Homo sapiens: one gene and its partners. The protein of the gene in region 1 purifies or fractionates together with the protein of each later gene. This does not show direct contact. Each region holds a gene or a part of one and is shown in the gene's direction. Other genes may lie near its edges.

Evidence for each region. The genes of interacting proteins can lie anywhere in the genome.
Region 2: the proteins of SDK2 (region 1) and VPS13A purify together in Homo sapiens (affinity purification with mass spectrometry; one large-scale study listed by BioGRID and IntAct). This does not show direct contact.
Region 3: the proteins of SDK2 (region 1) and TSPAN5 purify together in Homo sapiens (co-immunoprecipitation; one large-scale study listed by IntAct). This does not show direct contact.

Annotation. Positions count from the first base shown.
Region 1 is NC_000017.11:73,396,446-73,399,945, reverse strand, and holds part of SDK2 (protein sidekick-2 precursor), read left to right. Parts: intron 1-656; coding exon 657-778; intron 779-1,516; coding exon 1,517-1,626; intron 1,627-1,760; coding exon 1,761-1,911; intron 1,912-2,463; coding exon of another isoform or gene 2,464-2,538; exon of another isoform or gene 2,539-2,903; intron 2,904-3,500.
Region 2 is NC_000009.12:77,180,534-77,184,033, forward strand, and holds part of VPS13A (intermembrane lipid transfer protein VPS13A), read left to right. Parts: intron 1-3,500. UniProt on the Homo sapiens protein: Mediates the transfer of lipids between membranes at organelle contact sites. Binds phospholipids. Required for the formation or stabilization of ER-mitochondria contact sites which enable transfer of lipids between the ER and mitochondria.
Region 3 is NC_000004.12:98,469,867-98,473,611, reverse strand, and holds the end of TSPAN5 (tetraspanin-5), read left to right. Parts: intron 1-1,024; coding exon 1,025-1,090; 3' UTR 1,091-3,245; downstream 3,246-3,745. UniProt on the Homo sapiens protein: Part of TspanC8 subgroup, composed of 6 members that interact with the transmembrane metalloprotease ADAM10.

The DNA of each region.
Region 1 (3,500 bases):
AGGTGTTGCTATTATCCTCTTCATTACCAAGGAGGACATGGAGGCACAGAGAGTTGGATAACTTGTGCAAAGACACACAGCCTGTAAGTAGTGGAGTTAGATTTAAACTCATTCTGACTCCAGAATCTGTGTTCTTTCTGTTGTTCCTGAGCTCCAAGAGCCCCAGGATTCCTGGCCAGAAAATAAGCTTCCCCCTGTCCCCACCCATCCTCTCACCTTCCTGAGCTGTAATTAGGCGTAGGAGGTGTGCAGGGGTCTGGGCGGATGGAAGGGAGGATCGGTCCCGTTTGGTTTCTTTCTCAGCACAGCTTGGTTTTAATGCAGCTTTTAGCTGCCTTATGATTACCTCACTCACATCCAGAACTGCCAGGAAGAAGGCGGCATCCCGGCCCCTGTTTCCTGGCCCTGAGAGCCTCCTCTCAGCCCTAGGAGATCCCCTTTGACCCCCAACTCTGTCTCAGCCTCCTGGCATGAACATGGTTCTCCGTAAGACACAGGAACAAAGACTGTGGGTGGAGTGGGGCCGTGGCTGTGCTTCTCCTCAGACATTTCCAGGAAAAGCGTGACACACAGCCCCCTCCATGCCCAACAGTCCCGTTCAACATGGGGGGCCATTCTCACCGGATCTCCTTCCCCACCCTGTTCTCCTTTTCCAGAACTCCCAGGGCCCCCCACCAACCTGGGCATTTCCAACATCGGCCCCCGCTCTGTGACCTTGCAGTTCAGGCCAGGCTACGATGGGAAAACCTCCATCTCCCGCTGGCTGGTGGAAGCCCAGGTAGGGCAGGCCTGGGGCCTGACCAGCAGCCCCCGCCAGGGCACCCCGTGCCCTTGAGTGCAAAATCTTATGTGTATTTCGGCCTGTGTGAATTTTCATGTGCAGCTCTCAATGGCCCATTATACTCCAAATGCTCACACTTGCCAATGTTGTCTCCAACTCCCCCTGCCCCTCACCTGTGTACATGGAAAAACACACACACACTACAGTCCCCTCCTGGGTCGGGGGGTGCCTAGAAAAATACCCAGTTGCTGGAATATAAAAATATCCGCCTTGGCTGTACCCTGGAATCATCAGGGGAGCGTTCAGAAGCGCCAACACCTGTGCCCCTACCCCAGAAACTCTGATTCTGATTTAGCTGATTTGAGGGGCAGCCTGGGTCTCTGGAAGTACCCGGGGTGTTCAAGAGAATCACCTGGGCTGCTTGTTAAAAGCACAGATTCCTGGGCAGCACTCGAGGGATTCTGTAAGTAGTGGAGTTAGATTTAAACTCATTCTGACTCCAGAATCCAGGAATATATTGATCACAAGCATCCTGAGAGATTCTAAGGCAGGAGGGTTGAGTCACACTTGCAGTCATGTTTAGGGGCCTGGAAAGATGGTAGCCCCATATGGTGCCCTCCAGATGAGCCCTGGGTTCTGAACCAACTTCTTCCCTGGCAGGGCTTGTACTGGGGCTCGGAGCACCCCGTGTGGGCCCTGTAGGCTGGACAGGCCTAAGATCCTGCCCTTTTCCAGGTAGGCGTGGTTGGGGAGGGAGAGGAGTGGTTGCTGATCCACCAGCTCTCCAATGAGCCCGATGCCCGCTCCATGGAGGTGCCCGACCTCAACCCCTTCACCTGCTACAGGTAATGAGACTGGCCCGGGGAGAAGGCAGCAGCCTCAGGGCTGGGGGTGGGTGGGGGCTATGGCCCAGACCAGGACAGGGTTGAGAGTTGGGTGAGCTGCCCTTACCATCTTGCTCATCTCTCCCCAACCCCAGCTTCCGCATGCGCCAGGTGAACATCGTGGGCACCAGCCCCCCCAGTCAGCCTTCTAGAAAGATCCAGACCCTGCAGGCACCCCCTGACATGGCCCCAGCCAATGTGTCTCTGCGCACAGCCAGTGAGACCAGCCTGTGGCTGCGCTGGATGGTAAGGCTCCCTCGAGGGCAGGGGTGGGACCTCTCCATGAGCTTCTGGTCATTGCCTCCTAGAAGGTGCACATCAGAATTCCTACAGCTCCTTTCTCCTCTCTTTCTGTTTTCTGATGAGATGCCTGATAATCAACATCTTAGCCCAACGAACAAATGCCCCCCCGCCCGCCGATGAGAGGAAGGAGCTCAAAAATACTGTTTACTGAGCATCGCCAAGTGGCAAGCATTTTAAATTTTCATCCCATTTGATTCTCCCAATAATCTTACAAAGGATACATGATCATCCCAATTTACAGCTAAGAAAACTGAGGCTCAGAGAGGTTAAGAACTTGCCCACAGCCACACAGCTCCCAAGCGGCGGGTCTGGGGTTCAAGTGCCACTGTGGCATTCAGAGAGTGTCCCCAGATCCGGGCTGTGTGTTGAGGGTCCTGACCGTGGGCCATCCTGCACGAGGTAGTGACAGTAACACACCGAGGCTTCCTCTCCTACCAGGCGCTGTTCTGACAACAAGCCTGTGACAGCAGAGTGATCCTGGTCCCCCTTTTGCAGATGAGGAAACCGGGGCAGAAGAGAGGTCAGATCACTCGCCCAAGTTCTCCCGTATCCTCCCACGTGCTTTCATGAACAGCAGGGCTGAGGTCCCAACCCGGGGAATCTTTACCCGCAAGTCCACAGCCCTAACCATCGGGCACACTGCCGTCTCATCCTCTGGAGAACAGGCCACTTCTCCCCACCAGGCCCTCTGGAACATCGTTTCCCAGCACGTGTCCCACAGAGCAGCAATCCCAGGAGGCGTGTGGAGCAAACAAGAATTCTTAGACAAATAAATGTGGGAACAGCACCACATACCACAGCTCCATAGAGAATCCAGGAACACTAGCATAGCAGGAGCCCTCTTGACCCTGCTTCCCCAGGCCCATCTGACCACACAAACCCTTTGTTTCCACGTAAGATCTCACTCATTGTGCAAAACACAACTTGCAAACACACCACACTGTGAAGTCATTATTGCCGTTCCTGTGCGCGGACAGCTTGATGCTAGCGGCCATGAAAGCGCTTGGCGCCGTCAGTCCTCGATAAATATGAGTTATTGATTGCAGTTCCCTTCCCAGAGTGGCTGGTGCCTGAGCAGAGCTGCAGAGCTGTCTCGGCCCACCTCAGTGCCCCGTGCACAGTGTGACTATACCCACCTCCTGCCTCTTTGCTCCCAGGCATCCCCACCCCAGGCTGGCTCCCTGCTTCCTTCCTGAATCTCACTTTAAGGTTTGCAGCTACTAAAAGGTTAGAGCCTGATGCGGAGGGCAGGGACTGCATGGGGGAATAGAAAGGCAGCTGCCATGTGGCACAGGGCCCTAGACACTTCTCAGGCCCACGCTTAATGGTGCGTGGTCCATTACCTTTCCTCAGCAGGTAAAGGAACTTGCACTTAAGCCCCATCTCCGGCTCTCAGGACCATCGATTGCTATCTTAATGGTCTTTGGTCGGCTTCACTAAGTGTCTGCAGGAGGGAGGAAGCGTGTAGTGAGCAGGGGAGGTTGGGGCCGAAGGTGAGGAGTGGGGTAAAGTGGGTCAGCCTAGGGTGAGCC
Region 2 (3,500 bases), on another chromosome or scaffold:
GATGTTCTCCTGTGTTTTCTTAAGGAAGTTTTGTAGTTTTAGGTTTTGGATTTCTTTTTGTATAAGGTGTGTGATATGTGTTGAAGGTTGAGGTTCATTTGTTTGCATGTGGATGCAAATATCCAATTGTTTAGCACCACTTGCTAAGAAAGAGGATCCTTTCTCTATTGAATTATCTTTGCATTTCGTAAAAAAAAAATCAGTAGACTTAATATTGTGTGGCTTTAGTCTGTCTCAATCTGTGTGTCTATCATTTCACCAATACTACACTGTCTTGATAACTGTGTCTTTGTAGTTAGTCTAGAAATCAGGTAATGTGATCCCTCTAACTTTAGTCTTTAACAAATAATTTAAAAAATAACAAGTCATTGTCCAGGTGTGGTGCTCATTCCTGTAATCCCAGCACTTTGGAAGGCTGAGGCGGGAAGATTGCTTGAGCATAGGAGTTTGAGATTACAGTGAGCTCTGATCATGCCACTGCATTCCAACCTAGGCAACAGACAGCGAGACTCTGTCTCAAAATAAAATAAAATAACATGTCAGTGTTTTATTTATAGAAATTGGTTATGTTTTGATAAATGAAACTTTAAATAATAGCTGGAGTATTTTTTTAAAATATTCTTTGAGAATTTCAAAAGTAGTAATTTGATAAATTTGGAGGATTTTTTAAAAACATTGTTTGAAAATTTCTGTAATAGAAACTAGGTGGCCAGGCATAGTGGCTCATGCCTGTAATCCCAGCACTTTGGGAGACTGGGGAGGGTGGATCACTTCAGACCAGCCTGGCCAATGTGGTGAAACCTCATCTCTACGAAAAAAATAAGATACAAAAATTAGCTGGGTACTGTGGCGCTCGCCTGTAATCCCAGCTACTCAGGAGACTGAGGCAGGAGAATCACTTGAAGCTGGGAGGCATAGGTTGCAGTGAGCTGAGATCACACCATTGCCCTCTAGCCTGGCCAACAGAGCGAGACCCTGCCTCAAAAAAAAAAAAAAAAAAAAAGAAACTGGATGCTGCATAGGAAAATTTTAAGATAATATTTTATGGTCTAACGTGAAGGACCTATTGGTAGTTGTAAATGTGTGCTTTTGCTAGGCTTCTGAAATAATCCAGCAAATTTCAATATTAGCATGTTACTATAATAGTATCAATTAGTATTCAGTCATTGCTAATAATGGATGGTGCTCTGAAAATTTGTTGCTGAGATGGATTCTTTGGAAATCAGAATGCATTTTTCCCATGGAAGCATTCTTATATATGAATGAGGACTTTTCCAAAAACCTGTTTAACTATAATGCAGCAGAAGAGTGCTACTGTACTGGGTTCAATACAGTAAGTAGACTCACTGCTAGAAGACTCTGTCTTACAGGGGATGAAAAAGGAATTGAGCTTCATTCCAGGACTGACTCTTGGCAAATTTTGATGTTGGTAAGGTATACTTTTTATACACTTCTATTTATAATTCTCCCTTCCCATATATCATCTAGTTAGAGAGGTGGTAATATTTCATAGACTCATCTGAAATTTATCTTCCCAACTTTCTCCAGCAATTTTCTTTTTCTTTTTCTTTTCTTTTTGAGACGGAGTCTCGTTCTGTCACCCGGGTGGGAGTGCAGTGACGCGATCTCGGCTCACTGCAACCTCTGTCTCACGGCCTCAAGTGAGTCTCCTGCCTCAGCCTCCCGAGTAGCTGGGATTAAAGGTGCCCACCATCATGCATGGCTAATTTTTGTATTTTTAGTAGGGACGGCATTTCACCACGTCAACCAGGCTGGTCTCGAACGCCTGACCTCAAGTGATCCACCTGCCTTGGCCTCCCAAAGTGCTGGGATTACAGGTGTGAGCCACTGCGTCCGGCCATTTCACATATTTTCTTTAAGAGCTAGGCTGCATCAGAATCAGCCATAGGTGCTTATTATGAATACAGAACCTGCCCCCAGAGATTATAAATTATTTATCTGGAGTAGGACATGAAAATATTTTTTTAAACAAATGACACTGGGGACTTGATGCACAGTTGGGTACATTTTAAGAGAACATTAAGGGGAAAAGTATTAGAATTTTAAATAGACAAAAGCAGTAGTAAAAGTGGCTTGTGTGATAGAATTATCATTTGTAACACAGGAAGTACCTGTACTTCATAGCCCCTTCTTAAGTTAGCCTCCTTTGTCTCTATTTTGTTTTCTCCGAAATCACAATACTTGGACAAATTTGTAATTTTTTTTTGATAATGCCTGACATCTTTATGTAACATTAGAAGTTCAGATTTCTTGTCTATTAACTAACATACGTATTCTGTTTTTGAAATGTTAATCTCCCAGTTTTCCCTTTATAATAGAATCATGTGTTTAGTGGCCACTTAGCTGGATACCGCCATGATACCAGAAGCAGTACAAAAGATGAAGATTCAGTTAGGATACAGTTTTCGATTTTTAAGGAGTCATTCTTCTGTGCCCAGAATACACTAGGGAGCCAAACAAATGATTCTTACAGTCTGGTGTTAATGACCAATTCTAATTCCTTATGTATTATTTTTATATTTATGTTCTAAGATACTTTAATAAAACTTTAAAGACTATGAAACATTTTATTATAAAAAGTGTTAGGAGATTTTACAGTGCCTCTCCATATACCCATTATCTAGATTCTGTCATTAATATTATGTATTAACAGCTTTATTGACGTATAATTAACATGCAGTAAAATACACGTTAAAGTCTACAATTTGATAAGTTTTAGCATATATGTGCATGCAGGTAACAATCATCACATGATAATGAACATATCTGTCATACCTAGAAGTTTCCTTGTGCCTTTTTGTAAACCGTATCTTCTAACCCTCCTTGTCCCTTATACCCTTCTTGTCCCCAGGTTTTTGCTGATTTGCTTTCTGTTACTGCATATTAGCTTGAGTTTTCTAGACTTGGATAAATGGGATTGTACAGTTTGTATTCTTTCAGTCTGGCTTATTTCAGCATAATTATTTTGAGATTCATCCATGTGGTAGTACAATCAATAATTTATTCCTTTTTATTGCTGACCATAGCAAGTGGTGGTGAGGATGTGCAAAAACTGGAACTCTGTTAATATGTCTCCTGGGGATGTAAAATGTTAAACAACTTGGGAAAACAGTTTGGCAATTTCTTAAAAAGTTAAACATACATCAACCATGTTATCAAGCCATTGTGCTTCTACATGTTTACCCAAGAGAAATGAAAGCATATGTTCATACAAAGATTTGCACACAGATGTGCATAGCAGCTTTATTTTTAATAGCCCCAAATGGGAAACAGTCCAAGTATCCACCAACAGGTGAATGGATAAACAAACTGGCATATCCATATAATGGAATACCATTAATATTTAACCACACATGTTTTGTCACATACCTGTCCATCTGTCCATCTCTCTATCCATGCAGCAATTCATATTATTAAATGTATTTCAGAATAAGTTGTAGAGATGAGCTCATTTCCTCCTAAATACTTCAGCATGTGTA
Region 3 (3,745 bases), on another chromosome or scaffold:
GGCGGGCGCCTGTAGTCCCAGCTACTCGGGAGGCTGAGGCAGGAGAATGGCGTGAACCCGGGAAGCGGAGCTTGCAGTGAGCCGAGATTGCGCCACTGCAGTCCGCAGTCCGGCCTGGGCGACAGAGCGAGACTCCGTCTCAAAAAAAAAAAAAAAAAATGGCTAATAAGCACATGAAAAGATGCCAACGTCAGTAGTCATTAAGGAAATGCAATTCAAAGCCACATATTTCATACTCGTTAAAGCGGTTAGAATAAAAAAGACAGACAATAACAAGTATCGGCAAGGATGTGGAGAAAACGAAACCCTCATATGTTGCTAATGGAAATGAAAATGTTGCAACCTCTTTGGGAAACAATTTAGCAGTTTCTCAAAAGTTAAATATAGTGCTACCATATGAGTCAGCAATTCTACTCCTAGAGGAGTACCCAAAAGAATTGAGAAAGTGTTTACCCAAAAACTTGTATGCTCATGTTCATAGCAGAATTATTCATAATTGCCAAAATGTGAGAGCAATGCAAATACACATCAACTGAGGAGTAGATAAACAAAATGGGGCATATCCATGCCATGGAATATCATTCAACCATCAAAAGGAATAAATTAATAGCACATGTATATGAACCTTGAAAATATTTTGCTACATGAAAAAGACAGCCACAAAAGCCCCATATTATATGATTCCCTTGATATGAAATGTCCAGAAGAGGCAAATCCACAGAGGCAGGAAGTAGATTAGTGGTTGCTAGGTCTGTAGGGATGGTGGGATGGGAATGACTGCTCACAGGTACAGGGTTTCTTTTTGGGGTAATGAAATGTTCTGTGATTAGATAGTGGTGATAGTTGCATAGCTTTGTGAATATACTAAAAGCCCCTGAATTATACACATTTCAAGGATGCTTTTTACCACATATGAATTACATCTTAAATTTCAAAAATCAATGATTTAAAAAAATGGGACACAGTGGCCAGGGAAACAAGTTACAAGTGTCACTGTTTCACTCACATTTTCTTCCTTTCTCAGATATTTGGGATATGCCTGGCCCAGAATTTGGTTAGCGATATCGAAGCTGTCAGGGCGAGCTGGTAGACCCCCTGCAACCGCTGCTGCAAGACACTGGACAGACCCAGCTTTCGGGACCCTCCCGCGTGCCGAACTGATCTTCGAGCTGCATGGACCTAATCACAGATGCAGCCTGCAGTCTCGCCTAATGGAGCTGCCATTAGGGGAGTGTAAAACTGGGAAATGCTGCTCACTGACAGAATTAAAAAAAAAAATAACCAGTATGAAAGTCGTTGCGCCGTGAATCTCTACTGTAGCCATGAATTTATGGACAGTTAGATGCTTACCAAAAAAGAAAAAAAGGGAGGGTAGGGGACCCAGATGTACTTGAATGTGCAGAAAATACATTCTTGTCCTCATCTTCCGTAATTGGAGGGCTGGGAGAGGCAGCTTTGCTCTTCACCACACCTTGGACGGACCACCTTCTTTCTGTTCCATGGCCTGAAGGAGTGCATCTCCTCAAAGACTCAGCCCCTCACCTGGGAGGGCAGTGGTTTGTGGGCATCCCTCCATGTACATTTTAGGAAACACTTGCAACTCTCATCTGAAGAAGAAAACAACTCATCTTTGGGTTCAGATTTTGTGATGGTATTCAGCAAGTCACTTGGGCGAGCACACTTGGTCTATCCTGGAAAGTCTCCTTATAAGAGAAGTTGTGTATTTCATGTGCACCGAGCAAGGGCATTGGAAGACGTCATGAGGCTGTATTTTAGCAGGACTGATCGTTTTTCTAAGTAGACCTGAGCTTTGTTTATCAGTGAAATTCAAGGAGAAAATGAGGTTAATGAAGAGGTATCAGTTAAATATCCCCTTCTTCTCACCCTGCCAAAATTAGCAGTTGGATTTTTGGAAACTCTGGAATATTCTGGGTCATTTTGTTTTGTATGTTTGTTGTTTTTCGTCTTCCAAAGGTGAAAGCTATGATACAGTTCCACTTAAATTTTAGTGTTTTCTTACTCAGCTCAAGCATTAATTTTTGATTAAGTCTTAATCTGCATGACCTGTGAATCTGAATCCATCATCTCCCTTTCCTGCCAGCTTTTCTACAAACATTGAAATATGTTATTTGGTCAGCACTTATTTCCTAGGTTCACAGCCTTGGGAGGTTGTGGCATGTCCTCCCAGTCTGGCTGGGAAGAGACCAGCTGTACCATCCAAATGCTTCCCTGGTCTTGATGATCTCTTCCAGAGTCGATCTGAGTGGCCTTTTCTGCACCCTCCCCTTCTTTCTCTTTGAATGGAATTAAACCCAATTTGGAAACAACATTGACCCAGTCAAAAGCTTCTAATGGTTTCTTTTTCTTCCTCCAGTTTTAGTTTGCTTTTATTAAAAAAAGAAAATAGTGCATGGCCATAGCTCCTTCAGTTCTCTTATTGCAGACTAACCATCAGGATGGTATCAAAGCACAAATACTTTGGAGGGGAATGCGTTGAACTGGGGCAAGTACTCTGTAACACAAAGTGGGAAACCACTTCCTGGTGCTGCCGCTCCTGCCCCCACTTTAGGTGGGAGGGACGAGTTTTGCCCTCTAGATTTTAATCCAGCTGGTGTCCACCGGATGTTGCCCTCCTGGGGAGCAGATATCAGTCTGTGGAACTCTGGGAAAACCACAGGCACATTTTTCGGTGCGGACAGATTTGCCAGCACATAACTGGGCAGCCAGCTAGAATACTTTGTGGAAATTAAGCGAGGTTTTCCATTTCAGCCCCATGGTGCATGGTGGTGGCCGATGAATGTGTCAGTCTGCTCAGAGAAAGGACAAAAAGGAAATTATTTTCAAAACTGTGTTCACTGTTTGGGTGTGTGTATGGCTCTGCATGTGTGTGTTTTTGTCTCTGTATAGGTAGAGGTATTCACATCTTACTCCGACTGTAAGGTTGTCTTACTTCATCTCTGCCCCCACCACAGTTGCCATTTTGTAATGTCCTTCCAACATGGAGAAGACACGAGCTCTCTCCAGTTGGCATCATTTGTCTTTTTTGTTGATTGCCTCATTCTCCAGTGAACTCCATCTGGCCAATTGATTCAGAATCAGGCAAGATCCCTGCCCTTTGGCACATCCACTGAAAGGCCAAACAGCAAGTCCGAGTGAGTTTTAAATATTAATTAATCACCCTTTATTTTTTACACTTGAGAGTGATTGTAATAAAGGCTGTCATTAATAAACTTGGTTCTACCTTACATGGTGTGTCTTTCTTCATTACTTCTTTCTTGAAATTGTGAAATTTTCGAATCCAGTGGTTCTCAAACTTTAGCAGGTGTCAGAATCACTGGGAGGACTTGTTAAAACACATGAATGCATTTGCTCCGTGCCCATAATTTCTAACTTAGTAGGTCTGGGGTGGGGCTGGAGAATTTGTATTCTGATAAGATCGTAGGTGATGCTGTTTGCGGCTTGTTTGGGGACTACACTTTGAGAAGCATTGTTCTGATCCAGTTTTCTAGGAGGGGAAACAGAAAGGTAAGATTTTGTAGTTGGGAAGGGAAAGGTTCCTTTGTACTTAAAAATGCTGACTGACAAGACACAGAGGCCAGAGCCTCGTATGTAGGAAATCCCTGCCCATGAGGTCATCTGCTGGTTACAATCACTTGGGGACCATGTGAAATACAGATTCCCCAGACCTTACCCCTAGCAGTTCTGGAGTGGGAGACAGGGTAATCTATGTTTTAAAAGCTCCCTT